3 separate regions of the Homo sapiens genome follow, and regions 1 and 3 are each linked to region 2. Evidence: fine-mapped expression QTL. A gene starts in region 2. Each other region holds a variant in brackets. All regions are shown on one strand. Distances are between the middles of the regions.

What was found. PIP is the estimated chance that this variant, and not a neighbour inherited with it, causes the effect.
Region 1: its variant is fine-mapped to the expression of NCEH1 in testis (GTEx, PIP 0.93).
Region 3: its variant is fine-mapped to the expression of NCEH1 in whole blood (TOPMed, PIP 0.91).

Annotation. Positions count from the first base shown.
Region 1 is chr3:172,637,079-172,647,934 of GRCh38, forward strand. NCEH1 (neutral cholesterol ester hydrolase 1) reads right to left here. Exons shown (of 5, transcript NM_020792.6): 2 at 10,808-10,856; 3 at 8,545-8,614. Among named protein-coding and RNA genes, the nearest start is that of LINC02068, 47 kb to the left of the region's middle. The variant T/G (reference allele first, on the strand shown) is at 4,968.
Region 2 is chr3:172,706,541-172,717,396 of GRCh38, forward strand. It overlaps NCEH1 (neutral cholesterol ester hydrolase 1), which reads right to left and starts at 4,527. Exons shown (of 5, transcript NM_020792.6): 1 at 4,307-4,527. The coding sequence starts at 4,444. RefSeq lists enhancers at 3,979-5,178, 4,308-4,577, 4,499-4,793, 4,838-4,977.
Region 3 is chr3:172,668,695-172,679,550 of GRCh38, forward strand. The region is part of intron 1 of NCEH1 (neutral cholesterol ester hydrolase 1); the gene reads right to left. It overlaps LOC124909457 (a long non-coding RNA gene), which reads left to right. Exons shown (of 2, transcript XR_007096170.1): 2 at 7,253-7,999. Among named protein-coding and RNA genes, the nearest start is that of NCEH1, 37 kb to the right of the region's middle. RefSeq lists enhancers at 8,099-8,734, 8,735-9,370. The variant AT/A (reference allele first, on the strand shown) is at 5,886.

The DNA.
Region 1 (10,856 bases), 69 kb before region 2:
ATATGAAAATTATCATATGTTTTTCCTAAAGATTGTGTTCTCTGATATCAGGAACTGTGTTTTATTCATAACTGTGCTTCCAGTATCTGCCAATGTGAGGGGCACATAATCATCCATCCAATAAATCTTTTTTGAGTATTAACATACCTTCATTTTGCAAACGAAGAAACTAAGGCATACAAAAGTTACTTGATTTGCAAAAACTCAAAAACAGACCAAAATTAGGTAGGATAAAAACTAATTACCTAATTAAAAATTAATAACAGCCAATGAAGACTCAAGACTTTTGATTTCCATCTTATAATTAGCATACTTATTTTCACAAACTAATTTTTTCTAAGCTACTCTAAATAAAGACATTTATTTTCCACAGTCTAAAATCCAGCTAGTTGGGCTGAGAGCGGTGGCTCACACCTGTAATCCCAGCACTTTGGGAGGCTGAGGCAGGTGGATCACTTGAGATCAGGAATTCAAGACCAGCCTGGCCAACATGGTGAAACCCCATCTCTACTAAAAATACAAAAAAAGGGCCAGGTGCGGTGGCTTAGGTCTGTAATCCCAGCACTTTGGGAGGCAGAGGCAGTCAGATCACCTGAGGTCAGGAGTTCGAGACCAGCCTGACCAACATGGTGAAAACCCGTTTCTACTAAAAATACAAAAATTAGCCAGGCACGGTCGTGGGCGCCTGTAATCCCAACTACTCAGGAGGCTGAGGCAGGAAAATCACTTGAACCCAGGAGGCGGAGGTTGCAGTGAGCCGAGATGGTGCCACTGCACTCCAGCCTGGGTGACAGAGCAAGACTCCATCTCAAAAAAAAAATAGCCGGGCATGGTGGTATGCACCTGTAATCCCAGCTAGTTGGGAGGCTGAGGCCTGAGAATCACTTGAACCCAGGAAGTGGAAGTTGCAGTGAGCTGAGATCGAAAGAACAAGACCTGGGCGAAAGAGCAAGACCCTGTCTCAAAATAAAATCCTGCTAGGTAATTAAACATCTTGACATTCATTGTAGATAAAATCAAATGGACAAATGTTTGTGAAATACGTTGACAAGTAGTGAATGTGGATCTGGTCATTCCGGAATTACCACATTTTGAAACTAAATGCAATAAAAAAACTCCCTTAGTGGAGGCGGAGCTTGCAGTGAGCTGAGATCGCGCCACTGCACTCCAGCCTGGGCGACAGAACGAGACTCTGTCCAAAAAAAAAAAAAAAAAAAAAAAAAAAAAAATCCCTTAGCGTTTGCCATATAGCAGATAAAATAAATTTTCTAATTTCTTATTTTTCCATCTGGGGTGGTCAATTAATCATGCAAAATGCTTTTTTTTTCCAGTTGATTTTTCACTATGTATGAAAGCTGCTGCTATATAATCTATATAATTCCATTTGAGCAAAAAAGTAGAATTACGCAGTTTTGTCCACTAGATGACATCATTTCATATGAGTCTATTTACCCCTAGTTCTTGGGGTGGGGGGTGGGTCTCAATTTTTAATCTTCAGTATTACCAAGCTGAACTTTTAATTTTAATAAAAACAAATGTACTTCATGACTCAAGTTGTGAAAACAAAGGTTATTTCATTTCAGCAATATCCCACATATCACAATAAACTGTTTTCCTGGTTGCCCAGATGGTCAGAACATATCCACTAGCATCCATATGTCAAATAAGTTGAGTTTTTAGATGTTATTTCAGAAAAGGTCTGAGAGACTTTGATCAAAGGCAATTGGTAACCTAAAAAAAACATGCTACTGCTCAATCTTCTCAATTAATAATTGGCTTATATAATAGGATAAACATGCTTAAAAACAAACAGGTTATGATGCAAGAGTGTTCCTGGTGCCATAAAGATCCATGGCCTAACCCCTCCCCTCATCTGTTTTCATGCTGGAAACATTCTTCAGTTTTACTCAATAAAAATGGACACTTTTGGCCAGGCACGGTGGCTCACCAGCACCAGGCATGGTGTAATTCCAGCACCTGGGGAGGCCAAGGTGCGCGGATCACGAGGTCAGGAGATCGAGACCATCCTGGCCAACATGGTGAAACCCCATCTCTCCTAAAAATACAAAAATTGCTGGGTGTGGTGGCATGTGCTTGTAATCCCAGCTACTCGGGAGGCTGAGGCAGGAGAATCGCTTGAACCAGGGAGTTGGAGGTTGCAGTGAGCCGAGATCACGCCACTGCACTCCAGACTGGTGACAGAGTGAGGCTCCGTCTCAAAAAAAAAAAAAAAAAATGGAGACTTTGTAGACTGAAGAATATCCTGAAAGTAGATATTTATTAGGTTACCTGGCATAAGATGAACTTTCAAAGTAGCTTGAAATTCACCTAAGAAGTATATCAAAATTTTGTAATATCTAGACACAGAAAGCCAAGAATCAGGAGGAAATTCATGGGTGGTACAGCCAAATAAAGCATACATAAATATATCTGCTCTCTGCTGCTGGTGCTCAAAGCTATGTCCCTGCAAAGTAGTGAAAGAGGGTTCTGACATTCAATATTTAAAAACTGCAGATCTTAAAGCACCTGATACGTAAATATCAAAGATGTTATATCATATTAATATTATGGATGCATATATATTCCTCAATTTGCCCAACTCACTTCAGGGAGAGGATGACTCTGCAATGACAAGTGGATTACCTAGCTTTATCACTGCATGTAACTCCCATCAGAAGAACAAAATTTGGTGTAAATTCAGGCATGAGGTTTAATCAAATTAATGTGTACAGTCTATCAAAATGACCATATTCCTGCTGGGTGAGGTACCTTGCCAAATGTTCTACAGACGTATGTCACTCAAATCTCAAGCAAACTTCTGGGTTTAAGGATGAGAATGTGAGGTTGAAGGAAAATGTGTAACTTGTCTGTAACAGCTAGAAGTGGCAGAACTGGGATCTGAACTCACAACTGACTTCAAACCTATGCCCCCAAGCCCCGAATGACACCAATGTGCTAAGAGGGTTGAAATGCGCAATTCTTCCTCAAAATAACCTAACCTGGAAGCCATATGCACAACCTTCTGCTGTGGAAGGGACGCCAAGTTCTCTTCATATAGTACTACTTAGGTGAAAGATACATGCGGCATTCTGGAATAAAATTATACTCCTATCAGATTCAGCAGGAGAGAGGATAAGCCTCACTCCTTTTCCAGCTTTTTTACTTTTCACCATCACCCAAGAAAATCTCAATAGATTCATTTTGGGAACATAAAAGAGTTAATATTCCCCACTGTCTTAGGGGTATTTTTAGTAGGGGATATCCAAAACAAATCAATAATTAAATCCAGATTGTGCTCTCTGAGTGAGACAACTCCAGAGGGAGAATCTATTTATTCCACTAACAGAAGTTTCCTTTCTACTGTTGCATCACAAGGTCAAAAAAAAAGCAAAGCTTCCTTTCTTCCCTGCCCCCTTTATTTATTTATTTTATTTATTTATTTATTTTGAGACGGAGTCTCGCTCTGTCGCCCAGGCTGGAGTGCAGTGGCACAATCTCGGCTCACTGCAAGCTCTGCCTCCCAGGTTCACGCCATTCTCCTGCCTCAGCCTCCAGAGTAGCTGGAACTACAGGCGCCCGCCACCGCACCTGGCTAATTTTTTGTATTTTTAGTAGAGATGGGGTTTCACCGTGTTAGCCAGGATGGTCTCGATCTCCTGACCTCGTGATCCGCTCGCCTCAGCCTCCCAAAGTGCTGGGATTATAGGCATGAGCCACTGCGCCCGGCCCCCTGTCCCCTTTAAGAGACAGTCTTGCTCTGTCACCCAGGCTTGAGTGCAGTGACACCATCATAACTCACTGCAGCCTCAAATTCCTGGCCACAAGCAATCCTCTCACCTCTGCCTCCCTAAGTGCTGGAATTACGGGTGTGAGCCACTGCATCCCACCCAGAAGCTTCCTTTTCATTAAAAGAACATATAATAAAACTGTGCTCGAGGGGAAGGAATGTGGATGGATGACTGTTTCTCCAAAACTGCACCATTGCACTCCACCCTAGGCAACAGAGTGAGACTCTGTCTCAAAAATAAATAAATAAAAAATACATAAACTAGAGGTAAAAAAATACTCTATTATAGTTAAACTGCACTGAAATTTATAAATATAAGGCCTTTTATATTCTAGATTGTATAAATGAGGATACATCTGCAAATCTTAGATAAACACTGTAATGTATTTAACAAATACTTATTGTGCAATTAATATGTAAAAATAGTATAGCGTTGTAGAAGCTACTGAGTAGGAGACATAGCTTTTACGTAGGTTTTGTACTCAAGGACTTCACCTATCAGTCATTTGGTCTGTCCCCAGACCCTTGAGCCAGCATGAGTGACATGAATCATGGAGTCCCAACTCCTGGTGCTCATAAGAGGTGATTCCATTACCAAGGCTGCTGGAACCCCTGCCCACCAGCTTCCTCAGATAAAAACCTTCCCCAGTGCCATAATCCACATGAAAGAATAGCAAAGCCATGACGCCACTACCCACTCTAGAGGGCCTCAAGGCAAGGAGCTGCTGGCTCCAGACAGCCTGTCTTCTAGAAGGCGGAGCTCCAGAAGAACCAAGCGTCCACCATCCTCCTAAAGACTCTTGGAATCATCCACACTTACTTCTGTTTTCCTCAGTCGTCCCTCCGTCTGTCTTCTCTCACATTTCATTCCCTCACTGCTCTCTGCCTCGTCCCTCCCCTCCCAAGCCCTCTTACTACACCACTTTGGTCTTCCATGACAAATCCACTTTTTCTAATGAGGTTCTGCTCATTCTTAGGGGTTTCATCCAAACATCACTTTCTTTAAGACACCTTTTCTGATCCTTTAAACGAGGTAAGATCTTGCCTGTTAGATGTCTCTGTTACTACTTGCCCTTCTACTTCCCATCACTTATCACACTTTTAACATTACTTATTCAAGGTCTTTCTCTTCTAGATCATAAACTCTATGAGGGCAGGAATTAAGTCATTCTTACATTGT[T/G]ATGTCACCAGCATTTAACACGGTAACTAGCACAAAACAGGAATCCAGTAAATATTTATGGAATAAAAGAAAGAAGAAAGAAGCGAGCCACTGAGATCCCGCTCTGAACTGCTTTTTTTTTCTATTTTTTTGTTTTGTTTTGTTTTGAGATAGGGTCTCTCTCTGTCACCCAGGCTGGAGTGCAGTGGCGCAATCTCAGCTCACTGCAGCCTTGATCTCCTATGCTCAAGCAGTCTTTCCAACCCAGCCTCTTGAGTAGCTGGAACTACAGGCATGCACCACCATGCCTGGCTAATTGTTTTTTAACTTTTTGTAAGACAGGGTTTTGCCATATTGTCCAGGCTGGTTTTGAACTCCTGGACTCAAGTGATCCACCTGCCTCAGCCTCCCAACGTGTTGGGATTACAGGTGTGAGCCACTACACCAGGCCTGAACATCGTTTCCAAGAGAAACATCATGATCATATAATGTTGGCTGTACCTCAACTACAGCATAGGTTATAAAGTGCTCTTGGGTTAGCCTGAATCTTAACAAGGATTACTATCTTGCTATTTCTACAAAAAAAAAAAAAAAAAAAAAGAAAAAGAAAAAAAAGTACTGTGAGTTCCAAACATGCTGATAAATAAACGTGTAAGTTGTCCTTTTCATTCTATAGGCTAGATAGAGCAATAATCCTCCAGACTCAGCTAGTGCTTTTGAATATCTGAACTCCTCTTATATCAATTGTCTAAAATGATTCTCATGACAATTCTCTGCAGTCATTATCCCAACTCAGCATGCATTTACCTAGCATGCACACTCCAAGCCTTGTACTGGGTTCTGGAGATGCAAAGGAAGGAAGACGTGATTTCTGTTTCCAGGAGTTCACATTCTTTTGTTTTTGCTTTGTTTGTTTGTTTGTTTGTTTTTTGAGACAGAGTTTCGCTTTTGTTGCCCAGGCTGGAGTGCAATGGCTCAATCTCGGCTCACTGCAACCTCCGCCTCCCGGGTTCAAGTGATTCTCCTACCTCAGCCTCCCCAGTAGCTGGGATTACAGGCATGCACCACCATGCCAGGCTAATTTTGTATTTTTAGTAGAGATGGGGTTTCTCCATGTTGTTGATCAGGCTGGTCTCGAACTCCCGACCTCAGGTGATCCACCTGCCTCAGCCTCCCAAAGTGCTGGGATACAGTCATGAGCCACCGCGCCTGGCCTTTGCTTTGTTTTTTAAAAAATAGGGTCTCCCTGTGTTGCCTAGGCTGGACTCGAACTCCTGGGCTCAAGTAATCCTTGTACCTCAGCCTCTCAAGTAAGGCACACCACCATACCTCACTGTTTTCCCAGTAGCTCACATTCTAAACATACAGGAAGGGTTCTCAACCCCATTTTGCACATGAGTTTAAATGACCTGCTTGAGGTCACACAGTCATGAGTGATGGAACTTGACTGCCATATGCTCATGCCTCCCATCTGGACACCATGTTGTATAGATTAGGAACAATGCAAAGTTTAAATCAAAGCAGTCCCTTCTAAATTTTAGCCCTTTTCAAAAAAATCCTCTTAAATATATCTTATTCTTCTGTGTCTTATGATAAGCCTTGCAATACCCATTTTACTTGAGACAGATGCTGATAAGGGGAGAAGGGAATGGAGGAACGGTTTAGGGCATGTGGCCAAATAGTGATATTGAAGCCCGGAGGGTAGGCCCTGTGGTAAATGGAAAATCTGCACGGTGCCAACTGAAGCAAGCCCAGCTTCCCTCCTTTTCTCAGGCCTGCAAGGAGCTGGGGCTACACAAGAAACCAACTGAATGGCCCCTGAAGCTTGTTCCTCAACACCGAGCTGTAGGGCCTTGTCTCCTTAAACATCCCCTGTGCTTTCCTCTGGCCAGCTGCTCAGGCCAACTGCCCAAATCATTTCCTTGAAGGTTCCTGTATTACCAAACTGCACTGACAACCCTTGAGTAATCTGGGAGGCCTTGCTGAGAGTCCAGAAAGGTCCAGGTGCGGTGGCTGCTTCCTCAGCAGATTTGGCTCCAGCTGTCTGGACTCTAGGGCTTTTGGGTGACTGCAGGGCTTTTGGGTGACTGCAGGGCTTTTGGGTGACTCTAGGGCTTTTGAGTGACTCTAGGGCTTTGGGGTGACTCTAGGGCTTTGGGGTGACTCTAGGGCTTTTGAGTGACTCTAGGGCTTTTGAGTGACTCTAGGGCTTTGGGGTGACTCTAGGGCTTTTGGGTGACTCTAGGGCTTCTGTCAACAGGGTCAGAACTGCCTCAGTGACTCTGAGCAGCCCCTTTCAAGAGACTGCAGAAGAAAAGATCCACTCAAATCTGGAGTAGGAGCAAGGAGGTGGCGCACCATGAACAGGAGGATAGCTGACAGAGAGGCAGAGGGAAGAAGAGAACTGAATGAGCCTGGGGCAAGAAAAAGTGGTTGGCGTCATGGCCCTGCCACTCAGCATTATAAGCTCCCTTCAATAGTGGCTTGAAACTGGATCAAAAAGGTCCAGAGACCTCAGGAACTATCTGACTTATTCCCCTACCCCATCTATGCGATGAGCTAGCTATCTGGCCTTATGCACATCACTTAGCTTCTTGGGTCTCAATTTCCTCACTTATGAAAAAGATATCAAAATATCTTGGATGTTTTATATGAGAATTAAGGTGCTTCATTCATTCATTCCATAAATATTTACTGAATGCTCACCATATGCCAGGGATGTTTCCAGGCACTAATGATTCAGCAATAAACAAAACAAACAACAATCCTGAAATGTTTGCCTTTATAAAATTCATATTGTCTATTTCCACTTATTACAATAAACATAATAAGTCAAATATGTGGTTTGTCAGATATTGATGATAGCTTTGGAGAGAAATGAAACAGAGGAACGTGGGTTGCAATTTCACAAAGGCTTGTCAAAAAAAGGCTTGGCTGAGAGGATGGTATCTAAAAAAGACCTAAAGAAGAAGAGACACGTGTGCAAAAGCATTCGCACAATGCCTGGTACAAAAAAGATGGCGTGATTTTTGTGTTGTATTATTATTATCATCAAAATTATTATAATTATTATTCACATTCTTCTTAGTTGCCCAGAAAAGTGGCTTATACAGAACTGACAGAGACAACCCAAAATATTAATATTACTACTATTACTACTAACCACACCATTAAAATTTGTTGAACACGTATTTCTGTTCCCAAGGCACAAGTCATAGAACCTGACTCTAAGAGAGCAACTTTTTCAACTCTCAGCTGTAGAAGAGATTCTCTTAAAATCCTTACTACTTTTTAGATTTAAAAAGTTATATGTTGCAGGTAACTGATTGCATACTTCTCTAGGTTTTTAGTTAATCCTTTTTTCAGTTTTCAAAACTAACGGTGAAAAGGTAATTTGAAGTGTTATAAAGCTAGTTCAATAAATTTTGTTACATCAGAAATCATTTTTCTGATTATGCTGAGTGTGACTTTGGGCATATCTCTTTGCCAACTTGAGACCTTTATTTTTTACTTTATCACTTGTAAAACAAAGTAACCAGACTGTTATCTAGAATTCCTTTATAAGAAAAATTTTCTATGACTAGCATTAATTACTTACTCAATGGAAACAATGACAGCATTCAATTCCTCAGCCATTGCTGTACACAGCTCATCATAATACCTGATTTCTAAAAGACACAAAGGGAACAATCATTACAAAACAGGTCATTTAATACTGTCCACTCATAAATTCTGCTAAGTGTGAATTGTTTTTAGGCTTGGAGCTAATACTAAAAACAAATAATAAAAAGCAAATGTGAACAAATAATAGAGTTACATGTACACATGAAAAATTAAATCTGATTTCTAATAACATGCAACTACTATATAACAGGAAATGCATAGTTTAGTTTTGAATATATTACTATCTAAATATTTATTTCATAACGGACTATATGAAATGCACCAAATTAATCCTGATTTTATAGCTCTTCAAATGTATACATCTTTCTGGAAAAAAAATCACAGCAAATAAGCAGTCTCTTCCTTAGAATCATGCAATTTTAGGCTGGGAGTGGTGGCTCATGCCTGTAATCTCAGCACTTCAGGAGGCTAAGGAAGGAGATCATTTGAGGTCAGAAGTTTGAGACCAGCCTGAGCAACATAGCCAGATGCTGCCTCTATAAAAAAATTTTTTTTAATTAGCCAGGCATAGTGGTGCACGCCTGCAGTCCCAGTTGCTTGGGAGGCTGAGGAAGGGGGATTACTTGAGCCCAAGAGTTTGAGGTTACAATGAGCTGTGATAGAGCCACTGTACTCTGGCCTGGGTGACAGAGTGAGATCTTATGTCTAAAAATAATAATTTTAACAATTTTGCTCTTTTAACACTTCATTTGCTGCAGTTCAGTAAAGTGATCAATTTGAAGAATATGGTATTTTCTTTAAATGAACACGTAAAAAACTAGAATTTTAGGAAGTCTTAGCATTTCTTAGAGGATTCCAAAGGTCTGCAGTAACAGAACCAATTTAATATGTAAGAATTTAATTCTTAGTTACTCTCAGTAAATTAAGATCTATATTGTGCCAACTGAGAGCCAAACATTTCCTTATTTATAGGGTTTCCAAGGCAGTCTTAGAATCGGAAGCTTAAGAATTACATAGACACCTGTTACCTCCACCTGCTCAAGTTCTTCCTCAGGCAGAAGTGATCAGTCAAAATTATGCAGAAAAGGCCAGGCTGACTCTTGTAATCCATCCCATTCCTGGCACCCATACTTGCTGTCCTCCAGTACAATGTTTTTCCTGGCAAGCGTCCAATGCTACAGATTCAATCTCTTTTAAGGCAGAAACTCCTTCTTATTCATTTTTGTATCCCTACACCCGAGCACACCTTAGACTGACCAATGGTCCAGACTTGCCCACAACTGTTTGAGCTTTTGCACTGAAAGACCTGCAGCCCAGCAAACCCCTTGGTCTCGGGCAAACCTACATACTCATGAACAGCTATTGAAAATGTGAAAAAAAATCACTGAATAAAAGAATAAACAACGGATATGGAATTAAATAAGATTACTAGAAAAAGTCAAACCTTTTGACCTTTGTTGCTTTTAAAAAAAAATCACATAATGATAAAATAAAAAAAACAAGTTGCCATTGCTTTTAAACTAAGGGGATGCCAAAAGCTCTGGACTGAAGATGAGGAAGTAGCTCCATGATCATTTATTAGCAGAGACAAGACCCCGAATTCCGCCTTGGGAGGTTCTCTTCTGGGCGGCTCTGTTTGGCTGCCTGCCATTTTGAATGTGTTCTACTCATAAAAATCATCCAAATCTAAAGAAAATATTCTTGAACTTTGCAAGATTGTTTCCTTTGAATGGTTGCATATATTTTTACCTTTGCTTTCATAAGCAGATAAAATGTTAACATGTGTATTAAGGAATACCTGGTCTATTTCATAGAAATATATCTTCAAAACACAAGTTGGCAAAAGAAGCACAGATAATTCCCCATATGCGTGCCTGGTGAAACTTCACCTTGTTTTGGTGCAGAAAGCTGTATCAGCACTGCACAATAAGTTAGTCTGTGATTTAGATCATAGGAAATATTTTTACAACAGTCTACCTGAATTGACAAACAAACTAACAAGCAAAAAACCTTTACAAAGGATAACCATTTAATTTATCACCCAAACCAGGACCCTTTTGAGAGTGAAAAGGGGGCACTAGTCATAATTTTGCTGGGACAACAGGGGTAACTGGGACCATCCAGGGGAACCTAGATAAATGGTCCCCTTCTTTCCCACTAAGAAAGCCAAACTCAGTTACGCATCTCCCCCAAGGCCAACCACAACAACAAACCATCTGAAGGTGACCAGGACGCACTTGCACTTGCCAAGGCCCAGCCTCCTCCGTGGATATAAACGACGCTGCG
Region 2 (10,856 bases):
CAGGCTAGAGTGCAGTGGCACCATCTCGGCTCACTGAAACCTCCACCTCCCTGGTTCAAGCGATTCTTCTGCCTCAGCCTCCCAAGTAGCTGGAATTACAGGCGCGCACCACTGCACCCGGCTAATTTTTTGTATTTTTTAGTAGAGACGGGGTTTCACCATGTTGGCCAGGCTGGTCTTGAACTCCTGACCTCAGGTAACCCGCCCGCCTCGACCTCCCACAGTGCTAGGATTACAGGCATGAGCCACCACACCCGACCTTCATTCGTTTAAATGGTGCTGCAAATAAAAGAAAAAAAGATTGCTCGATTTTACTTCACGTTTATTATAAGTGGCAGTGCTTTTAGACAAGTTCAACAAGTTTTTGTTTTTTTTCTTTGTCTTACGGTGCTGATGAACAAGTTTTTTAATCCTGTAAAATGTTTCCATCTTTATAGCTAGAGGTTTGCCTATATCCATCATTACTTACCATAAATTCCATCTAGAGGGATTACGGGGTCAAAAAATAAACACACTTATAAGGCTTTGATGGATATTGCCAAACTGTTCTCCAAAAACGTGGTTCTAACATACATTTTCTCCAGCAGTGTACACTTAGTATTTTAACCTGCACTGAGATTACCATTTAAAAAAAAAAATCTTTGTCTGCATAGCATTTGGAAATCAGCCTTCAGGACTTCCCCAAACTCTCTTCTTTTGTTCCTCTAGTCTCCTGCTGCCTGATCATCTAAATTACACCTCTGCCCTTCTCAGACCTACTTTTGTTTGTGCTTTTCCACTGCTCAAGTCTTATGGTGGCTTTGCTATAACACAGAAATTTGCCTAGCTAGTATTTTATCCCCTTAGGGCCAAAGTGTCAACTAATCTGATAAACTAATCCATGCTAATGTAAAAGGGCTCATTTCCAGCAACACGTATGCAATATAACACGCAGTTTAAGGAAAATATATTGTCTACAACAGCAATGCCTTTTATCTTATAGAGCAGTGGTTCTCAAGTTTTGCTGCAATGAAGATCATCTGGGGAACTTTTCGTTTTTTATTTTTATTATTATTATTTTTTTGAGACGGAGTCTCACACTGTTGCCCAGGCTGGAGTGCAGTGGCCTGATCTCGGCCCACTGCAAGCTCCACCTCCCGGGTTCACGCCATTCTCCTGCCTCAGCCTCCCGAGTAGCCGGGACTACAGGAGCCTGCCACCACGCCCAGCTAATTTTTTTGTATTTTTAGTAGAGACGAGGTTTCACCGTATTAGCCAGGATGGTCTTGATCTCCTGACCTCGTGATCCGCCCGCCTCGGCCTCCCAAAGTGCTGGGATTACAGGCGTGAGCCACCGCGCCCGGCTGGAACTTTTCTTAAACACTGCTAAGAACGTTCATCTCCCAGAGATTCTAAGTAAGTTTGGTATGTGGTGTAACCTGGGCATCAAGTGTTTTGTTTTGGTTTGGTTTGTTTTAAACAGTTCTTAGGTGATTCTGACATAGCATCTGTGTTTGAGAGGAGTCAGAGAGATCCTAAGTAGCTGCTTCTTAAGGAATATGGGGAACCCCAAGGAAAAAAAGCACAATGAACATAATCTCAATAGTCTGACTCACTGCACAAGATAAAGGACATAAAAAATGCTAAAGCATAAAGTATTTGCCAATGACAACAGAATAAACTAACATTCACATTTCTTAATGGTAGGCAGCTGATGCTGTCTTAGGAAATAGGCTGAGCTTAATCTCTCAAACAGCTTAAATTGCTTTTGTAGTTGAGCCAATCAACTCAAACTAAAATTATCTGAGTAACGAGGTTGACACCATGCAATTTATTTATTTATATATTTTTTTGAGACAGAGTTTCACTCTTGTTGCCCAGGCTGGAGTGCAGTGGCACAATCTCGACTCAACGCAACCTCCGCCTCCCAGGTTCAAGCGATTCTCCTGCCTCAGCCTCCCAAGTAGCTGGGACTACAGGCACCTGCCACCAGCCCTGGCTAATTTTTTGTATTTTTAGTAGAAAGAGGTTTCACTATGTTGGCCAGGCTGCTGGTCTCGAACTCCTGACCTCGTGATCCACCCGCCTCGGCCTCCCAAAGTGCTGGGATTACAGCGTGAGCCACCGCCCCAGGCCATGACACCAGGTAATTTAGTAGTAGCACTCCAGGTTTCAATCACATAAATTACTTCCAGTTTACATTTATTTTATTGCTTCAAAAAAGGTAAGCATTCTTATAGATGTTCCCACAATCCACAATGGACCCTTGGGGACAACTAGAAGACTCACTACAAGTACCAGGCACTTAAATACATTACTAAACCTTATAGCAAACCTACAAGGTAGTTTTTTGCCCTATTTTACAGGGAAAACTCAGGAAGATTTGAGGTGACACTGGAAAATTGCTTTATTGGGTAGAATATGTTTCCATCTGATCATAATGATCTTTCTGATATTTCACAATTTAGAGGAGAAGTGATAAGAGCCATTTTTCTGCAAATCCACTCCTGAGCCACAGTGTCAGGTGAGAACACTGGTTACCTCATCTATTGCTGACTTCAGGTTACACCCACTATCATTCCCAAGCACCACCTGAGGGTATACTCTGTGGAGGACCTTACACAGCCTTGTCCTTAATGGGCTGGCAAGCCTAGCTGGGAAAGAAAAGCTTTTCTCCAAACCTAGCTTGTCCGAGATTAACTTATGATGGAGAAGACTTCTTTGGTGACCTGAAAACTAAGAATAATCTCTGCAGCCAACACAGCAGTTTGATCTTTTTCCTGTTTTCCTCTGTTTAAGTTATTGTAGTAGACCATTAACCCACCCAGGTAAACATCACTGTTCCTCAATCTTTGAAGGGTATTACTTTCAAATTACATAATTTCATGGGGGAGGAGAGGGAATGCAAGGCTTCCTACAACAAGACTGACTTTCTTGACACCAGTGCTAAAGAAGGGGATGATCATTTTCACCATGTCAACATTATAGGAAGCAAGAGGAAAAGAAGGGGGGCAGGGGTCTATAGCTTCATAGACCTTTCCTAAGAGACAAAAGGGGCTTTGGAGGTGAGAATGTGGCTGAATTCAGGAAAAGCAAATCCACGCTAGGAATGTGCTGCAATATCCTAGTAAGGGGACTTTTCATAGGATAAAGCCCCACAGATTATGTAATCCTACACATAATGAGTGGACAGGGAACAGGAACATAAACCCTCTGGGAAAATCATGACTTTTTTAAAATCAGCTTTCTCAGGTTGAAATGATTTTTTTTCTCTTTCTCTAGTTGTCATTTCTGAAAGAAAGAGTTTATAAAAATATTCTGAGATTAAAGCCCAAGGTTGTGGGGAGGGAGGAGGCTTGGTTTTGGAGAAGGTTAGAGTTTAGATAGAGCAGGCTGCTCAGAAATACTGTCCAATCAGAGGGCTCAGCCTTGGCTGCAGACTGTAGTTTAGATTTTAGATTCTCTGACACTAAAAATAATGCCTCTTACCATGGAATAAACCAGAGACAGTTATATTTTCCTGTGTATGGAAGGAATGAACACACGCCCATGATACAGTGGAGAGAAATGTTACCCTCCCAGGTTAAGGCAGGTAACCTCGCTCAGGAAAAGGTTATCTGACAGCCAAGGACATAAAATAAATGCTGCAGGGCAAGCAGAAAACATGCATCATGCAAACCAGGGCTGCCGCCTCCTCACCTCCTTTCAGCCAGCCCAGCCTCCCAGTCCTCTTTCTTGGGCTGAGCTGAGATCTGCCTCGGGTGAAACGAGAGATCCCTATGGTTCCTCAAGTGCTTGGATGGAGAGCCCTGCCTGCTGTCTCCGGGAACGGAGCGCTCCACAGCCTGGGGACATTGCGAGACTGCCCTTGCCTGCTTCTGCTTCTAAGGTGGCTGCATTCCCAGGAACCAGAGCCTGCTTTTCCCGAGCTCTCCTAAAAATATTTATCCTCTGCCGGTCCCTATGGGAGAACGACAGTGTGAAGAAGGGTGGTTTATAAACTGCTTAAGGATTTGCCTTTTGACGTTGCAAACCAAGGAAGAGGAAGATATTTAGGACAGACGAAGGTTTAAACAGTTGTCAAATTCTATTCAAGCACTTCTTCCCCGTCACAAACGCAGACGGGGAAATGCAGATCTAGCCCGCTGCTAGCAAGGAGGCGAATGCGATACCCTGAAAATTCCCGACTGGACCACCTCAAAAAGCGACAGCCTCAATGCATTAGGAAAAACCTGCGTTTTCGTGGAACCCGGCGGAGGAATTTTGTATCCCCTTCAAATATTGCGTAAGAGGAGGAAGAGAGAAGCAGCGCTGGGCTGCACCTCACCACTTGCTGTGCACCCCGGAAAGTGGCGTCCAGCAGCATCAGCTTCCAGGGGTCGGACACGGAGCCAGGCAGCGGGATGTAGACGTAATAGGCGGCCAGCGCCACCAGGGCGGTGAGCAGGACACAGGACGACCTCATCTTGCCCTGGCTCGGCTCGCCAGCGGGCTGGCAAAGAGGAAAGGGCGATACCACCCGGAGACCTCCGGCAACTTTCTGCCCGCGGCAGCTGCTCATTCACGCGTTTCTTATAAGCCCAGGAGCCAATCAGAGGCTGCGTCGGGAGGAAGTTGGAGCGCGGACATGCCCCCTCTACGGTGTCCTTGCAAAGTGTGGCAGTCACTACAGGTTTGAGGAAGGCTCTGTCGCTGCTCTGGCCGTAGGCACAGCGGACTCTGGAGGACACTGGTTTGTACTGCATGCGTGTGAGGATGGCTTTCCTCCTGGAAGGTCTCAAACGGAAAATAGTTTCAGTGTGACGAGTCTCTGGACAAAGCAAGTGGGTCATTCTGACTCAGAGTACTGAGAAAGGATATAAAAATTCTGTTTTCTGGAGCCAGACTTGGAGTGGTTTGTAAGTTCTAGCTGATATATGGCAAAAGAAGATATTAAATTCTTCTGGCTCAAGCAATGAAAGGCCAGTAGTACATCTAGCACCCAAGTCTTGGTTTCTAAATCCTATGCTCCAATAAGAGGAACCACGGCTTTTTGACACAACCTCTGGAGAAAAGGCTGATACCAGGGCTGGGGCTGTAAAGTACAAGATGAACCTGTTGTGCCAGAGATGCGGAAGTGCTCAAAAAATGATAGGAACTGGTCAAAGGTCCACAGCTGCCAGCTTGAAGGGTCTCCCAGTGGCTGAAGCTGGGATAATTTTACCATCAATATAAATCATCATAATGGATAACCCATTGATTAAAATAAAACTCAACAATCTATATTAATATAAATAAATGAGGAAAGAAGAAAGGCTTTTCTTAAAATAGAATGCCAGCTAGTATCCATAGAAAATCATAAATGAATGCTAAAACTAGAGGGTAAAAATTTGACACAGAATTTTGGTCCTTCATCAGAAGATCTCTCCACAAATTACTACAAAGGGAAAAAATAATAACTTTTTATTGGAGAAACGTGTGGATATCACCTGAAAAATTCTTTCAGTGAGTCAATGGTAGCAGAAATACACTTAAACCCAGATTTCTTGTTAATGATTGGGGGTGAGGAGGGGTGGGTGAGTACTGAATGGGAGAGAGAAAACTTCACTAGCAAAATTTCAACCAGAAATCCAGAAGGAAAACAGTTAGAAGACCTGTTTCAAGAAAGTGGTAGGATGACAACTCCAAACTTATTGATGAAGGTCTTAAAACACCTAGTATATATAATTATGCATCTTAAGATGGTAATTTTAATTTAATCAAATTAATAGAAGTGAAATAACCATAAATTTGGTTCTGATAATGAGATTTTTAGGAAACAGTTGGCTTCTTCTTCAACATTGAAGGAAAACTGATAAGAAGGGCACACTTTCATGGTATTTCAAGCAAGTTCTCTCTCTCTTTTTTTTTTGTTTTGTTTGTTTTTGGTGTTTGTTTTTTGTTTTTTTTGAGACGGAGTCTTGCTCTTTTCGCCCAGGCTAGAGTGCAATGGCACGATCTCAGCTCACTGCAACCTCCACCTCCTGGGTTCAAGCAATTCTCTTGCCTCAGCCTCCTCAGTAGGTGGGATTACAGGTGCCCACCACCACACCTGGCTGATTTTTGTATTTTTAGTAGAGATGGGGTTTCACCATGCTGGCCAGGCTGGTCTCAAACTCCTGACCTTGTGATCTGCCCACCTCAGTCTCCCAAAGTGCTGGGATTACAGGCATGATCCACGGCACCTGGCCTCTCTCTCTCTCTCTCTCTCTCTCTCTCTCTCTCTCTCTCTCTCTCTCTGTCTTTTAAGTTACTGGTTAAACTCATAACTCTAAACAGATAGGAATGTTTATGTTTATGTTTGTGTGTGAGTATATGTGTAGAAAATTAGAAGCTATTCTTTTTTTTTTTGAGATAGAGCATCGCTCTTGTCACCCAGGCTGGAGTGCAATGGTGCAATCTTGGCTCACTGCAACCTCTGCCTCCCGGGTTCAAGCCATTCTGCCTCAGCCTCCCGAGTAGCTGGGATTTCAGATGCCTGCCACTAAGCCCAGCTAATTTTGTATTTTTAGTAGAGACAGGGTTTCACCGTGTTGGCCAGGCTGGTCTTGAACTCCTGACTTCAGGTGATCCACCTGCCTCAGCCTCCAAAAGTGCTGGGATTACAGGTGTGAACTACCACGCCCAGCCAGAAGCTAATCTTTATGGGTGATTAGGAATAATCCTGGAGATATAAACCAAGCTGACTACTGGATTTAGTTACATTACTTGCTTTCAGGAAATCTGCAAAATAAATCCAAGTTTTACCTTGTCGACAATACTTTTCTCTTAGATTTTGACTATATGTTCATAAAAACATAGATCTTAGAGCTAATGACAAAACCAAACCGAACCAAAAACAAACAAGCAAACAAATCCAAAAATCCCCACACCTAACTCAGCCTTCCCTCTTCCACCAGCAGTTAACACACTCGGTGTTATAGATGAGCCTCTTGAGGATTAGCGCAGCCAAATGGCTTACTCATATTCCTCTAGTTTGTAAGTGATAGTAGCAATATTTATTTCTGCCTCTCAGTGAAGTGTGGCTTCCCTTAAGCAGTACACTAAGAGATAGAAACTAAGAAAGAACAAAGAAACTGTAGTAATTCTCAGATCAGAAATCTGAGAGCCTCTGTAGATCTGAGAGTTTTTTAAAATGAGACTAATTTGAGATAAGTATAAACACCTTCATCACTTGTTTTCAATACTTCATTCATTCAACAAACATACCTGGCCTACACTGGGAAATAAAGAAGTTGTGGCAGGCAGGCTGTAAGGTTTCGACTCTTTGATTTTATATGCTTGGAGGGTGGTGGGGAGGGGTTCAGGGGAGGATGTAAGCATGATACAGAAGGAAGAGCCAAACAATAAACAAACAAAAATTAATAAGCAACATGCATTAATTTGCCTTGCTATGAGGTAATTCTGTGGTAAGCACTTTGAATATATTAACTAATTTAGCTTCATAACGATTCTACGAAATAGGTACCATTGTTACTCTAAAAACAGGCACTGAAAGATGAAGTGCTTTGCCCAAGCCATCCAGCTGGTATGTGAGCCCAGAGTCTGAGCCTAGTGCTCATGTGCTTTACCACTCAGCTCTACTGCTAAGTGGTTAAAAATGAAAATGGCCGGGCGTGGTGGCTCACGCCTGTAATCCCAGCACTTTGGGAGGCCAAGGTGGGTGGATCACCTGAGGTTGGGAGTTGGAGACCAGCCTGGCCAACATGGGGAAACCCCGTCTCTATGAAAAATACAAAAATTAGCTGGGTGTGGTGGCACGTGCCTGTAATCCCAGCTACTCGGGAGGCTGAGGCAGGAGAATTGCTTGAACCCGGGAGGTGGAGGTTGCAGTGAGCCGAGATTCCACCATTGCACTCTAGCCTGGGCAACAAGAGTAAAACTCCGTCTCAGAAAAAAAAAAAGAGAGAGAGAGAAAACAGAACAGGGTGTCTGGGAGCTGCTTTAAATTGGGTGGGAAAGGGGACCTCTTTAAGGAGATGCCATTTGAGCTGACATCTGCATGACAGGAGAAGACTGCCATGCAGGGTTGTGGAGGTGGAGGGAACAGGTGCAGAGGCTCTAAGATGCTAACCCGGTCAATGAACACTAACAGCTAGTGAGGCAGAAGTACTGTGGGAAAGGTGGTGGAACAGGCTCAGCCACAGAGGTAGTGTGGGTGCAGAAGAGCAGATCATTTAGGACCATGTAGGCCATGTTAAGGAGTTTGAATATTCTGGTACAATGGGAAGCAATTGGAGGTTTTGTAACAGGAAAGTGACATGATCTGATCTATTCATATATTTAAAAAGGAGCACTACAGCTGCCATGTGGAGAAGACCTGTCAGGTGGCTTTTGCAGTAGTCCAGATGAGATATGATGGTGGCCCGGAGCTGCAGTTTAGTTTAGCAATGGAATCAAGGGGACAGATTTTGGGTATATTTTAGAGATAGGGGAGATAAGACATACTCATAAATTATGAACGATGATAACAAGAGTCAAAATACTCTGTTTCTAAGGCAATAAGGTGTAGTTTGAGTGCAGAAATTGACTTTTCCGTTTTTATGGAATTGTCTTAGATTAATTTTTATTAACATCTAAATATATGACATAGCAATATCATTGCTTAACAAAATCTTTATTTTTATCACTTGAAATAATTTTCCCAAAATTCCATCTATTACACCATGTGAAGTGGTTTTCTTCATCCACGACAAGCAGAACTTTAGTTCAACATTTATTGAGTTTTGCTATCTGTAAGGCACTGTGGTAGATGCTGTCGTGATGAAAATATAGTTCCTTTCCTTGTGAAAAAGTGTTCTAGTTAGAGAGAAAGTCAGATAAGTAGATAGTTTCAAATATGTACACAGCTCAGAAATGTAACACAGAAGAAGTCAAAATTCTGTTCCAGAAAAATGAGGAATAAGAAATACTCAAAAATGGCGATGACTGAGCAAGTTCTGCAGGCTGAAAAGGAGTGTGTGTACAGGCAGACAATAAGTGAGACCATCCCAAGCAGAAAGAAGAGATTATATGGGAGTTCTGAAGTGTGATGGGAGCAGAGAACTACACATAGTTCAATATTTCTGGAGCATCAGATGCAGGGAGGTGGAGTGTAATGAGAGTATAACCTGAAGAGTTAGGGATCACACAATGAGGGCCTGCTACGAGTGTGTTATGTCACTGAAGAGTTTGAACATTATCCTTTAGGCAGTGGAGAGACACTGAAGGGTTTGCATGAGATCGCTCCGGTAGCGATGTACAGGGTATGTGTGTGGGGAGAGAACAGATGAAGTAGTTGGGAGGATGTTGTTTTTTTGTTTGTTTGTTTTTGTTTTGCTTTTTGGTTTTTTTTGGAGATGGAGTCTCACTCTGTCATCCAGATTGGAGTGCAGTGGCGTGATCTCGGCTCACTGCAACCTCTGCCTCCCAGGTTCAAGCAATTCTCCTGCCTCAGCCTCCCAAGTAGCTAGGACTACAGGTGCACGCTGCCATGCCTGGCTAATTTTGTCATTGCTGTATTTTAGTAGAGATGGGGTTTTACTGTGTTGCCCAGGCTGGTCTTGAACTCCTGAGCTCAGGCAATCCAACCACCTCAGCCTCCCAAAGTGCTAGGATTACAGGCATGAGCCACTGCACCTGGTCAAGGATGTTGCTTTTAAGGTGTGCAAGATAGAGATGGTATTAGCATAAACTTGTATCAGGTGATGAAAATGAGAATGAAGAGTCAAAAGATACCTGAGAGGTAGAATCAAGAAGACTTGTAAAGGGAGAATAAAGGAGTCAAGATGAATTTCCGGGTCACTCGCTGAAGCAGATGGGAGAATGGTGTTGCCTTTTCAGAGATAAAGAATGGTAAAGGGTAAAAGATTTAAGGGGAAATGATAAATTTAGTTTGGAAGAGTTAGGTTTGAGGTATCTATAAAACATTTAAGTAGAGACAGTACGTAGGCTCCCAGACACAAGCTGGAGATGTAAATGTGAATCTTCATCCTGTAACTGAAGCCATGACAATGAATGAGACAGAAGCTGTGTGTGTGTGTGTGTGTGTGTGTGTGTGTGTCCGCGCCCGCGTGATGGGGAAGGGTCTAGGGTTGGGCAGAAGAAAAGCAGGCCAAAGGGTGTTGGCATTTACTGTTTAGGAGAAGAAGAAGGAGAAGTTGACAAGAGGCCAAGAGGAAGTGGTCAGAGAGGGGTCTGTCTGAACTAGAGGCACGGAATAGTGGTGAATACTGAAAGGCAAGGAAATCATTGAGAAGTTAAATTGGTGGAATTTCCTAATTGGATTCTTGAAAGGGAGAGGGAGAGGATGGAGCCAGCAATGACTTCAAAGTTTCTGGTTTGGGCAATGTCATTAACTGGCATAAGAAATACCAGAGGCAAAGCAGGTCTGGGGATAAAATAATGAGTTGAGGCCAGGCACAGTGGCTCAACGCCTGTAATCCCAGCACTTTGGGAAGCCGAGGTGGGTGGATCACGAGGTCAGGAGATTAAGACCAGCCTGGCCAACATGGTGAAACCCCGTCTCTCCTAAAAATACAAAAATTAGCTGGGTGTGGTGGTGCATGCCTGTAATCCCAGTTGCTCCGGAGGCTGAGGCAGGAGAATCACTTGAACCTGGGAGGCGGAGGTTGCGGTGAGCCGAGATTGTGCCACTGCATTCCAGCCTGGCAACAGAGCGAGACTCCATCTCAAAAAAAAAAAAATGAGTTCAGTCATATGATGTGCTCCAGGTAAAGCATCCTGATGAAGATGTCCAGCAGGCCACTGGATTTAGAGGCTGGACCCTTACAGGAGGTGTCAGGGCTGTACTTGGGAACAGCCAAGATGGGTAACCCAAGCATCATAACATATTAAACCACTTATACAAACTATATAAT
Region 3 (10,856 bases), 38 kb before region 2:
TTGTGAGAAAAATATTTAAAGAAGTATCTGGAGAAGTCCACTGTTAACGTGTTTTCTGTTACATGCAGGAAAACATAAAACTCTAATTGATACTAGGTAGATATAGAGAATGCACAGACATATATATTTTCCCCCCAGAAGGCAGAGCGTGAGCAAGCTAAATATAGCTAGGTATTAGGTCAGTATGATGAAAAATGTAATGATGGAGCTTTACAAAAACTGAATGGGCTGGCTAAAAACATAGCGACTCCTGTACTAGCCTCTCAAGTAGCTGGGACTACAGGCGCATGCCACCACACCCAGCTAATTTTTGTATTTTTAGTATACAAAAGAGTAGTTTCTTCTCTCTCCAACTGGAATATTACCATTATGGCTATAGCTTCGGCCTTCATCAGCAACCATGAGGAAAAGACAGAGGCCTTGGGTCTAATGTCTTTGAGACACTGAATTAACACCAACGTTTTGATTCAACTTCTCATTTTGTGAGAAAAATATTTAAAGAAATGTTTGGAGAAGTCCACTGTTCGTGTGGGCAGGGCAACACGCCAGCTACACTAAATGAGATCTGCCTAGGAAGCAGTGGAAAAAAATTATGTGAACTCCTAAGGGTTATTCCTTTAAACTCTAAGATGCTATGGCTGAACTTTTTTTAGAGTAATTGTATTTGCCTATTTCATGTTATGAGAGGAATTTGCCCTAAGGAAGTAGAACTATTTTAGCTCAGAATGGTAATATTTCTTCTAAAACTTATTAGGAAACTAGAAGGAATGTTTTGTGGATGTAGTTTTCCTAAAGGTCATGCAGAACTTCCAGGTATTAACAGATTTTGAAAGATGAATAATAGCCATTTTAGTGGTTATTTATTTTTTTGACATGGAGTCACCCAGGCTGGAGGGCAGTGGCACAATCTCGGCTCACTGCAACCTCCGCCTCCTGGGTTCAAGTGATTCTCCTGCTTCAGCCTCCTGAGTAGCTGGGATTACAGGCACCTGCCACCACACCCAACTAATTTTTGTATTTTTAGTAGAGATGGGGTTTCGCCATCTTGGCCAGGCTAGTCTTGATCTCCTGACCTCACGTGATCCACCTGCCTTGGCCTCCCAAAGGGCTGGGATTACAGGTGTGAGCCACTGTGTCCAGCTCATATCATTTTCAAAGGACTTGTGTAGCATACAGAATGGTTTCTAAATAATATCATCCATAATATTAGTTGATAGTCCATAATTCTAAATCCAGCATTTTTCAAAGCATTACCAATGAACAGGAACTTTTAAGATAAAGCTAAATATAGAAAAATAAGAAAAGTGAATTACTATAAATTACTATTCATATTATAATTTGAAATTTTGTTAATATTGTCTAAGACAAATCATCCTTTTGGGATAGTTTTTTTCACACTGTTCAAACTACCCTTCATCCTATAACGGCAGACATGACCTAATGATTCTCATTTTTAATCAACAGTGTTGTCAGACATTTCAATGATTCTGAACATAATATTATGACATTCAGGGCCAGAGAGCAAGCATTCTCTACTTGCTCTCAGCTGAAAGCAAAGAGGTTCTCAAGAGCTGTCAGCCTTTCTCCTTTATGTTCTGAAAGCCTCCTAAACTTGTCAGTTTACTTCCATTACACTTTTATTGAAAACAATGAAAGAAAAAAGTTACTACAGCGTTTATACTTTTAAAGTGAATGTCTTTTCTAATAAGGTAGAAATATCACAGAACCATTGAATGTTGGAATCAGAAGCATGTTTGGGATATCATCAAGTACAATAGCCACATCCTGACTATGAGGAAAGCTGGAGGGGCTAAAGGACCTCTCAAAGCTACACATGTAGAGTCAGCAGCAGAGCAGAGCTTAAAGCAGCAAGGGACTCTTACGGCCATCAGTAATCACACTCTTGCTTAACATGCAAATGAATAAAGCTATTTTTATAAAATCCTCCCCATATATTGGCAGTAACTCTAAATTCTAGTCATTTTTTAACCATTAGAGAATAACATTAGAAGCATCAGTAGTTAATGGTAATAATAATTTCCGTTTTATATGGGGTTTTATGGTTCACAAATATATTTTATAAAATAAGTTTCTAATATTTCATTTTCTTATATTGAGGGCTTTTAAAAGAACCAAAAACCTATTTTATGAAAATTTCATATTTAAAATTATAGTTGAGAATAATGGAAGATTTTTCCCATTATCTTTGCTCTCCTAGATAGTAACCAGATAAATGACTTCCCAGAGAAATGCATAGTCATATAAGATAAAACGTCTTTTTCTCTCCATTTTACTCAGAGTTTGATGATGAACTATGACTGGATATTGAAATAATCATTCTTTTATCCTTTGTAGTAAGGCTTACTTTGTCCAGTGGCAACATGATCAGACAAGCAGCTCTCAGATGACATGTGACAATATTAAATTCAATCTTAGCAAGCAGCTTCTCAATTTCACACTTGTGGTAGCTGGATTAACCCAATTATTTTTTGGAGGTTAAGGGAAACTTTTACATTTGCAGAATACCATCCTTCAGAAACCAGAAAGTAGGATTTCGTTAACTCAAAGAATTTTATGGAGATGGAAAGATCAGTTGGTATTTATTAAATTTTAGCACAGAATCAGATGGAGGGTTTAGGAAGAAGTAGATATGATTACCTAATAATTCACTTTGAGTTCTTCACTTTGATCCTCAAAAATGTGTGAAACTTGGGACTTTTACTTAGCATACCTTTCGGGTAAAATATTTTCATTGTACCAGTTCCAGGCTCTTGGTTCTAGCACAAAACCGCTGCTACACACACATACACATACACACACACACACACACACACATATATAGATATATATACAAATATATATATATGCTACCTATATATACACCTGCTACATGTGTGTATATATATTTACACATGCACATATCAGGTGTGTATAAATGTAGCATGTATATATACATACACACATGCACACAGGCACACACATACTTGTTACATATATAATTACACATGCACATATCAGGTGTATATAAATGTAGCATGTATATATACATACACACATGCACACAGGCACACACATACTTGTTACATATAGTCAGGTGCTGCATGATGACATTTTGCTCAAGAACAGATCACATATATGAGGGTGGTTCCATAGATTATGATGGAGCTGGAAAACTCTTATAACCTAGTGGCATTGTTGTCATTGTGACATTGTAGTGCAATTACTTAATTTTTAAAACAAATTTAGTGTAACCTAAGTGTACAGTATTTATAAGGCCTACAGTAATGCATAGTAATGTCCTAGGCCTTCACATTTGCTTACTACTCATTCACTGATTCACCCAGAGCAAATTCTACTCCTGCAAGCTCCACGGTAAGTGCCTTACACAGGGGTAGCATTTTTTAATCTTTTGTATCATATTTTGCTGTACCTTTTCTATGTTTAGATATACAAATACTTACCATTACATTGTAATTGCCTACAGTGCTGAGTACCAAGTTTCACCAAGTATTAGATCTACAAATACTTACCACTGCATTATAATTGCCTACATGTTGAGTACCGTTTCACCAAGTTGGACAGGCTAGTTTCAAACGCCCGACCTCAGGTGATCTGCCTGCCTTAGCCTCCCAAAGTGCTGGAATTACAGTGAGAGCCACCGCACCTGGCCAGGAAGCCCTTTTTAATACGCGTTTTAGAAGGCCTATGGAAAACCAGGGCCAAACCTCTCAATTACTCTAAACTGTCTATAATAGACCAAAAGCCAGATGAGAATCCTGTGGCCTTTATAGAAAGGCTGATAGAGGCACTAATAGAACACTCTTCCTTTTATCCCCTGATTCAGTGGAGAGACAGCTCATCCTGAAGGACAGTTTTATTACACAGGCAGCTCCCAATATTAGAAGAAAACTACAGAAGCAAGCTATGGGACCAAATAGCACCTTAGAGAACCTCCTGAAGGGGGCCACTTCGGTCTTTTATAATAGGGACCAGGAGGAGGCCCAAAAGAAAGAGAGAAAGCTCAGGGGAAGGACAAAGGCTCTAGCAGCAGCTTTGCAGGCTGGCAAAGTCCAGGAGCCCCAAGATGCATCCATTAGTTGCTATCAGTGTGGCAGGCCAGGGTATTTTAAAGAGGAATGCCCAGGCAGCAAGACGAAGCCACCTCAACCCTGTCCATCCAGTGGCAAAAACCAGTGGAGACAGAACTGTCCCCAGATATGGAGGTCACTGGGTTCAGAGCCAGTCTCACAGATGGTCCCACAGGACTGATGGGTCCTGGGGCCCAAACCTCAGCTCCAGCAGCTCAAACTGCCATCATAGCATAGGAGCCCCAGGTGATACTGGACATTGAAGAAAAGGAAGCAGACCTCCTTCTAAACACTAGACCCAGTCTCTCTCTTTTCTCCTCTCTAAGCCAGGCCTCCTCTCTTCCTATAGCGCAACTATAAGGGGCATTTCAAGAAAAACTCTAATCCAATATTTTTCTCAACCTTAGTTGTGGTTAGGAGGACCTATTTACAAATGCTTCCAAGCCATTGTCATAGTAGCTCTACTAGTCAGAAAAGCCTCCTAGTTAACCCTAGGAAATAATTTAACTGTTTACACCCCACATAATGTGGCAGGATCACTGTCCTCTAGGGGGAGCTCTTAGCCGGCAAACAGCCAGTGAAGCAAGAGGTACATAAAGCAGGAGAGGCAGTAGTCACTCTCCCCAAACACAAGCGCTCAATTGGCTGAGCTAAGAGCTCTTACAAGAGCACCTAAATTAAGCAAGGGAAAGGTGGCTAACATTTATACTGACTCCAAGTATGCTTTCCTGATTTTCCATGCTCATGCTGCCATTTGAAAGGAAAGGCATTTTCTTAACACTAATATATCTCCTATAAAATATTACCAGGAAATTAGCAGGTTATCCTCAGTTTTTCTTTCATGAGAGACAGCAGGGATGTATTGTAGGGAACACTGAAAGGGAACAGATAAGGTAGCAGAAGGAAACAGATTAGCTGATCAGGCAGCCAAGTCAAAGGCAAGGAAGCCTCAAGGCACTAACACACTTTGAGCCCTTCTAATCTAGGAGGGCTCCATTTTAAAAGAAATTAAACCTCAGTATTCCTCTGCAGAAACAGAATAGGCCACTTCTCAGCCGCATACTTTTCAGCCCTCAGGACGGCGACAGTCAGGATGGCAAACTCTATTTGCCAGCCTGCAGCCGATGAAAGTCCTTAAAATCCTTCACCGAGCTTTTTACTTGGGAATGGATAAAACTTACCAATGTGTTCAGAGATTTCTTTTCAGGCAGAAAAGCTCTAAATTGGTTAAGCATGTAACCTCTCTAAGCTCACTTCCCACAAGAATTAACACAACCAGCAGAAGCCCAACCCCAGGAAATAAAACCTTTATTTAACCCAAGAAATGTGGTATTAATAGAACATCTTAAGTTGAAAATTATAAAAGATAAGTGAGTAGGCTGAGCACATTGGCTCACGCCTGTAATCCCAGCACTTTGGGAGGACGAGGCAGGCAGATCACGAGGTCAGGAGTTCAAGACCAGCCTGGCCAACATGGTGAAACCCTGTCTCTACTAAAGATACCAAAGAAAATTAGCCGGGTGTGGTGGCACGTGCCGTAATCCCAGCTACTCAGGAGGCTGAGGCAGAAGAATCGCTTGAACCCGGGAGGCGGAGGTTGCAGTGAGTGGAGATCGCGCCACTGCACTCCAGCCTCGGCGACTGGGAGAGACTCTGTCTCCAAAAAAAAAAAAAAAAAAAAAAAGTGAGGGCTACTCATCTTACTCAGTCCCACCTTTACCCCAACAGATACTTTTTTTCATTTCTATCCTTTCCTGTCAAAATTTGCTACCAAATAGTAGAACTTCTTTTTAACGC[AT/A]TATTTACAGGGAAATTTTAATTATACATGGGATTGCATTTGTAACTTTGTAAATCCCCAGAGGGAAATGTTATATCTTGGCAAGTAAAATTTTCAATGAAAATTATTTACTATGCCACTCTTGTGGAAATTGTTACAGTTACGCTACTATTCGCAATAGAACTATACACTGTGGCACCCACAATGTGGAATTCTGGTTGTAAAATTCTAATTGCCATAATATTTTGCCTGATTATCATCCTTATAACAGGATTAATTGCAGGAAAAATTTAGTCAAAGTTGTTTTACTTATAGCAGGAGTAATAGTTACGGATAAAAAGCAAACATAGAAGTTTTACTATCATTACGTTTAATAGGACTTTTTACTAAAGGTTGGTAATATAATGCACTCTAAGCTATGAAAAAAAGGTTATAAAGAAATACATTTTATATAAGAAAGGATTTTGTGGCCAGGTGCGATGGCTCATGCCTATAATCCCGGCACCTTGGGAGGCCGAGGCGGGCGGATCACTTGAGATCAGGAGTTCGAGACCAGCCTGGCCAACATGGTGAAACCCCAGCTCTACCAAAAATATAAAAGCTAGCTGTGTGGTGCCTGTAATCCCAGCTACTCAGGGGAGGCTGAGACAGAAGAATTGCTTGAACGTGGGAGGTGGAGGCTGCAGTGAACTGAGATCACACCACTGCACTCCAGCCTGGGTGACAGAGCAAGATCCTGTCTCAAATAAATAAATAAATAAATAAATAAATAAATAAATAAATGATTTTGTGAGTTGATGGGTGCAGCAAACCAACATGGCTCATGTATACCTATGTAACAAACCTGCACATTGTGCACAAGTATAATTTTTAAAAAATTTTACAAAAAAAAAAAGGATTTTGTATGGTAAATACTTGTCATAAAAGGAAATGACTGGTTTTTTAAAGGAAGGATGTTTAGAATGAGTCAGAAAAATGTATGTTGTAAGAGAGTCTGTGAAAATCATGAAAAAATTTAATCATTAAAGGAAAGGAATTGTCAAAATTAATGCTAAAGTTACTTTAGACATCCAATAACGTATTTCTCTCAATCATACTGCAAGTTATAAAAATGGCCTAAGCCTAAAGTTATTCTCTAATGGCAAGTCAAGGGAGAAATGCATGCTGTTCTCAAGGAAAATGTTACTTTTATGTTAACGTTTCTGGTAATGTACAGCGACATCTAGTGTAGACAATCCAGTATTGCAATCCATTGGTGTAACTAATAGGTACCAAACTCTAAGTCAGTTATGGTCTACAGGACCCCCACTGATGGTGGTAATCTTAATGCTCTTATTCTAACACTATATTTTAAACCTTCTTGTAAAACGTATCTCTTTTCGCCTAGAAGCAATTAAACTCCAAATGGTACTGCAAGCAGAACCACACATGGACACGCCATTCTTCCAAGAATCCTTAAATCAACCTCAGGAGAAGGCCCAACTGCTGCTCCCCTGCATGCTCCTTTTCAGCAGGAAGTGGCCACAAAGAATCATCGTCCAACACCCCCTAACAGCAGTTAGGTTTGCTTCTCTTGAGGGGGGAAATAATACAGGTGTTACTTAAAAAAGTTTTTTTAGGCAGAGAGAGAGGCTAAAAGGAGTTCTTGGTAAGGCTTTTTCTGTTAATAAAAGCAAACCCCGAACCATTTCTTTTCTAACAGAAAAACCGCTTGAAGGGCCGGGCCAGGAAGCTTTGATACGCAAATGCCGCCCGTTAGAAATGGTCCACCCAATATGGCGACTCCTGCCTTCTTCTTGTCACCATGTGTGCCAAGTGTCATGGCTACCTCCAGATAATACCATGTGTTCAGAACATCATGGCGATCCGTATTTGCATATTAAAGAGCTAAGGTGGGAAATTTCGCCAGGTTTTTCACAGGCAATGTAAATAACATACCTGGTCAAACCAATCCCCTGGGCCCTATGCAAACCAGACACCACCTCCTCCAGCATCCCAATATAAGCAACCACTTTTCCTGCCACACACGGGGTTTCTCGTCGTTCGAATCCCCCCTCCCTTTGTCTCTGTACCGGGGAGCTGTTTTCTTCCTTGCTTCTCTCTTGCCTAATAAACTCTCCGCTCCTTAAAACTACTCCACACGTGTCTGTGTCATTTTATCTAAACTGGCGCGAGACCAAGGACCCTGGTGTTCCTTCAGTCATCGGAGCCATGTCATTTACACCTCTCTTGGTCCTATTCTTGTCTCACTCTCCTTTGCCTTCCATACACACAGGCACATAAAAATGAGACTTTTAAAAAATTAAGTTTATACTCACATCTCTGTTACCTCCCACAACAATAACTAGATCGTGAGCTCCTTGGGAAAAAGTCTGGGTCTCGGGGGCCAAATTTTTTTCCAGTGCCTCATGTACACGAGGTCATAAACAAATGCCCTTCCTGAGGCTACCCAAGCTGCTAAAAGCCTCCCTTGATTGCCAGGACAGCAGCATTTGTTTTCATTTGAGTGTTCCAAGTAGCAGCTGACTAAAAGCAGCACAGAAGAATTAAACTTCCAAACAAAACCTCCCATATTCCCTTCTTTGATATGACAGTTCAGAGCTTGTCCACTCATGCCCTGTGACTTCACAAATGTGTTACACAGGACACTCCAGAAGTTGGGTTAATCTTCTGCTTTTTACAAAGTGCAGGAAGTGGCAAATTAGACATCATCTTTGAAAAAACTGTGTCTTAAATGGCACATAAACACAAAAGATACAAGGGGAATGATGTTTATAGACATCTACTGATATCTGAAGAGCCAGATTCAGATGATAATAAATTAAGTACCCTTTTGTACACATTCACATGGTGATCATGACAAGTTATTGCCTACTATTTAAAATACATAATAATAAACCATGTACTCTTTCAAATGGACCTTTACAGTTTATGACCTTTTGAACTTTCACTCATCTGAATGTCACAAGGACTTGTGATAGGAACAGCAGGTATTACACTCGTATGCTCATTTGGGGCTTAGAGAAGTTAAATGCTTTGCTCAGGATCATAAAGCCCTAAGTGACAAAGCAAGCTGTTGGTGGGGGAGGGGCGGGGGGGCGGCTCACGCCTGTAATCCCGGCACTTTGGGAGGCCGAGGCGGGCGGATCACGAGGTCAGGAGATTGAGACCATCCTGGCTAACACAGCGAAACCCCGTCTCTACTAAAAATACAAAAAATTAGCCAGGCGTGGTGGTGGGCACCTGTAGTCCCAGCTACTTGAGAGGCTGAGGCAGGAGAATGGCGTGAACCCGGGAGGCGGAGCCTGCAGTGAGCTGAGATCGTGCCACTGCACTCCAGCCTGGGCGACAGAGCGAGACTCCATCTCAAAAAATAAAAATAAAAAGCAAGCACCAGAACTCTCAAAAGTTCGACTGATCCTGACCCACTGCTCTGAATATTATCAATCAGAGCTGTGATTATTTTAAACACTGTCATTATTTTAAACGGAAACCTCTCCTATTACACAGGTTTTGCTGCACTTAAGATGAAAAGGTTTAAAAATCAGGGTAGGGAGGGGAAGTAGGTCATGAAATGTATCCCAAACTCTACCCCACTGGCAGCACATTCTCTCTGCCAGCTGATCTGCTGGGCTGGTTAGCAGGAGTTTTGCCTACATAAACAGTGTCTGAGAAAATTAGCATCAGTACAAAAGCCCAAGCCTTTACAATAAGGACAATTTCTACAGCCAGTAGTTTCAAGTTAATGCAGCTCAGTCCCTCCTTGGCCTGAGGCATTACAAGACAGGATGGCCTGCCAGTTCCAGAGGCAAGAAGGAAGTCACTGGCTGTTGGGACAGAATCTGGGAAAACACACAATGGAGTGTTTAAATCTACACCAGGAGCAGCTTCTTGTTTTAACGGATCCAAGACGTTGGAACAAGTCACTCCTTCCAAACGTTTAGTCTATTGAAAGATCCACAATTACAACAAACTTGTTTAATGTCTAACAAAGTCTCAATCAAAATATCTATACAACAATTGAGATCTTCCATATAATGATCTTCCTGAGGAGAATTTACAGATAAAATACTCCACCACAAGGAAAAGGGTCCATATTTATTTTTTACCTACTCATTCAAACATTTAAAAAATTTTTTAAACTATATGTATTAAATATACCTTAAAGGGGCACAACTGCAGGCTTCCTACATGCATATATTGTGTAGTGGTGAAGTCTGTGCACCCATCATCCACATAGTGAACACTGTACCAAACAGGTCATTTTTCAACCCTCACCCCCGTTTGAAATGCTTGTTCCCTGGTGCCATAAAGAAATAGCACTTGAACATAAATTTAATTTACTCAGCAAGGCCATTTTTACTTCCTGCAGAAAGGGTACACTTGCCAGAAGTTTTGCCACAAGAGTACACCGAACAAAGGAGGCAGGGTCATTTATAACCTGACGCATCCACCCTACTGCTGTGTCCGCTTTCCATTGGCTGGAATGGGACCTCACATTCTGTATTTGTCCCGACTGGCTAGCAACTTAGAACTTTTAAAAAGAGGCACAGGTACAGGAGAACAAAGGAAGGAGGAAGGAAGGAGGAAGTAACTTGTGGAATGCTGAGAAAGGTAAAAACACCTTTAAATAAGGAAGAGGGACAGCTATGACCTAATGCTTGCTTGGACCACTATAAGCATGCCAGGGAAAATATTCAGGCTAAATTGTCGGCTCTAAGAACATGAAGTGTATTGATTTCTTTATTACAGCTAGCAGATATTTAAGAATGTTAGCACAGGTCTTTGAATAAATTTTGCTTTTAAGAGAAGTTACTATTTATTCCTAATTAGACGGGGAGGAAAGTCTTTGAAGAGGAACCTCTACTTTACTTTTTACACCCCCCACCCCCGACCTTTTATAGTCTCCAATGTCTATAATATTCCATTCTGTATGTACCGCACACCCATCGTTTAGCTCCCACTAATTCATTCAGCAAACATTTGAGTGT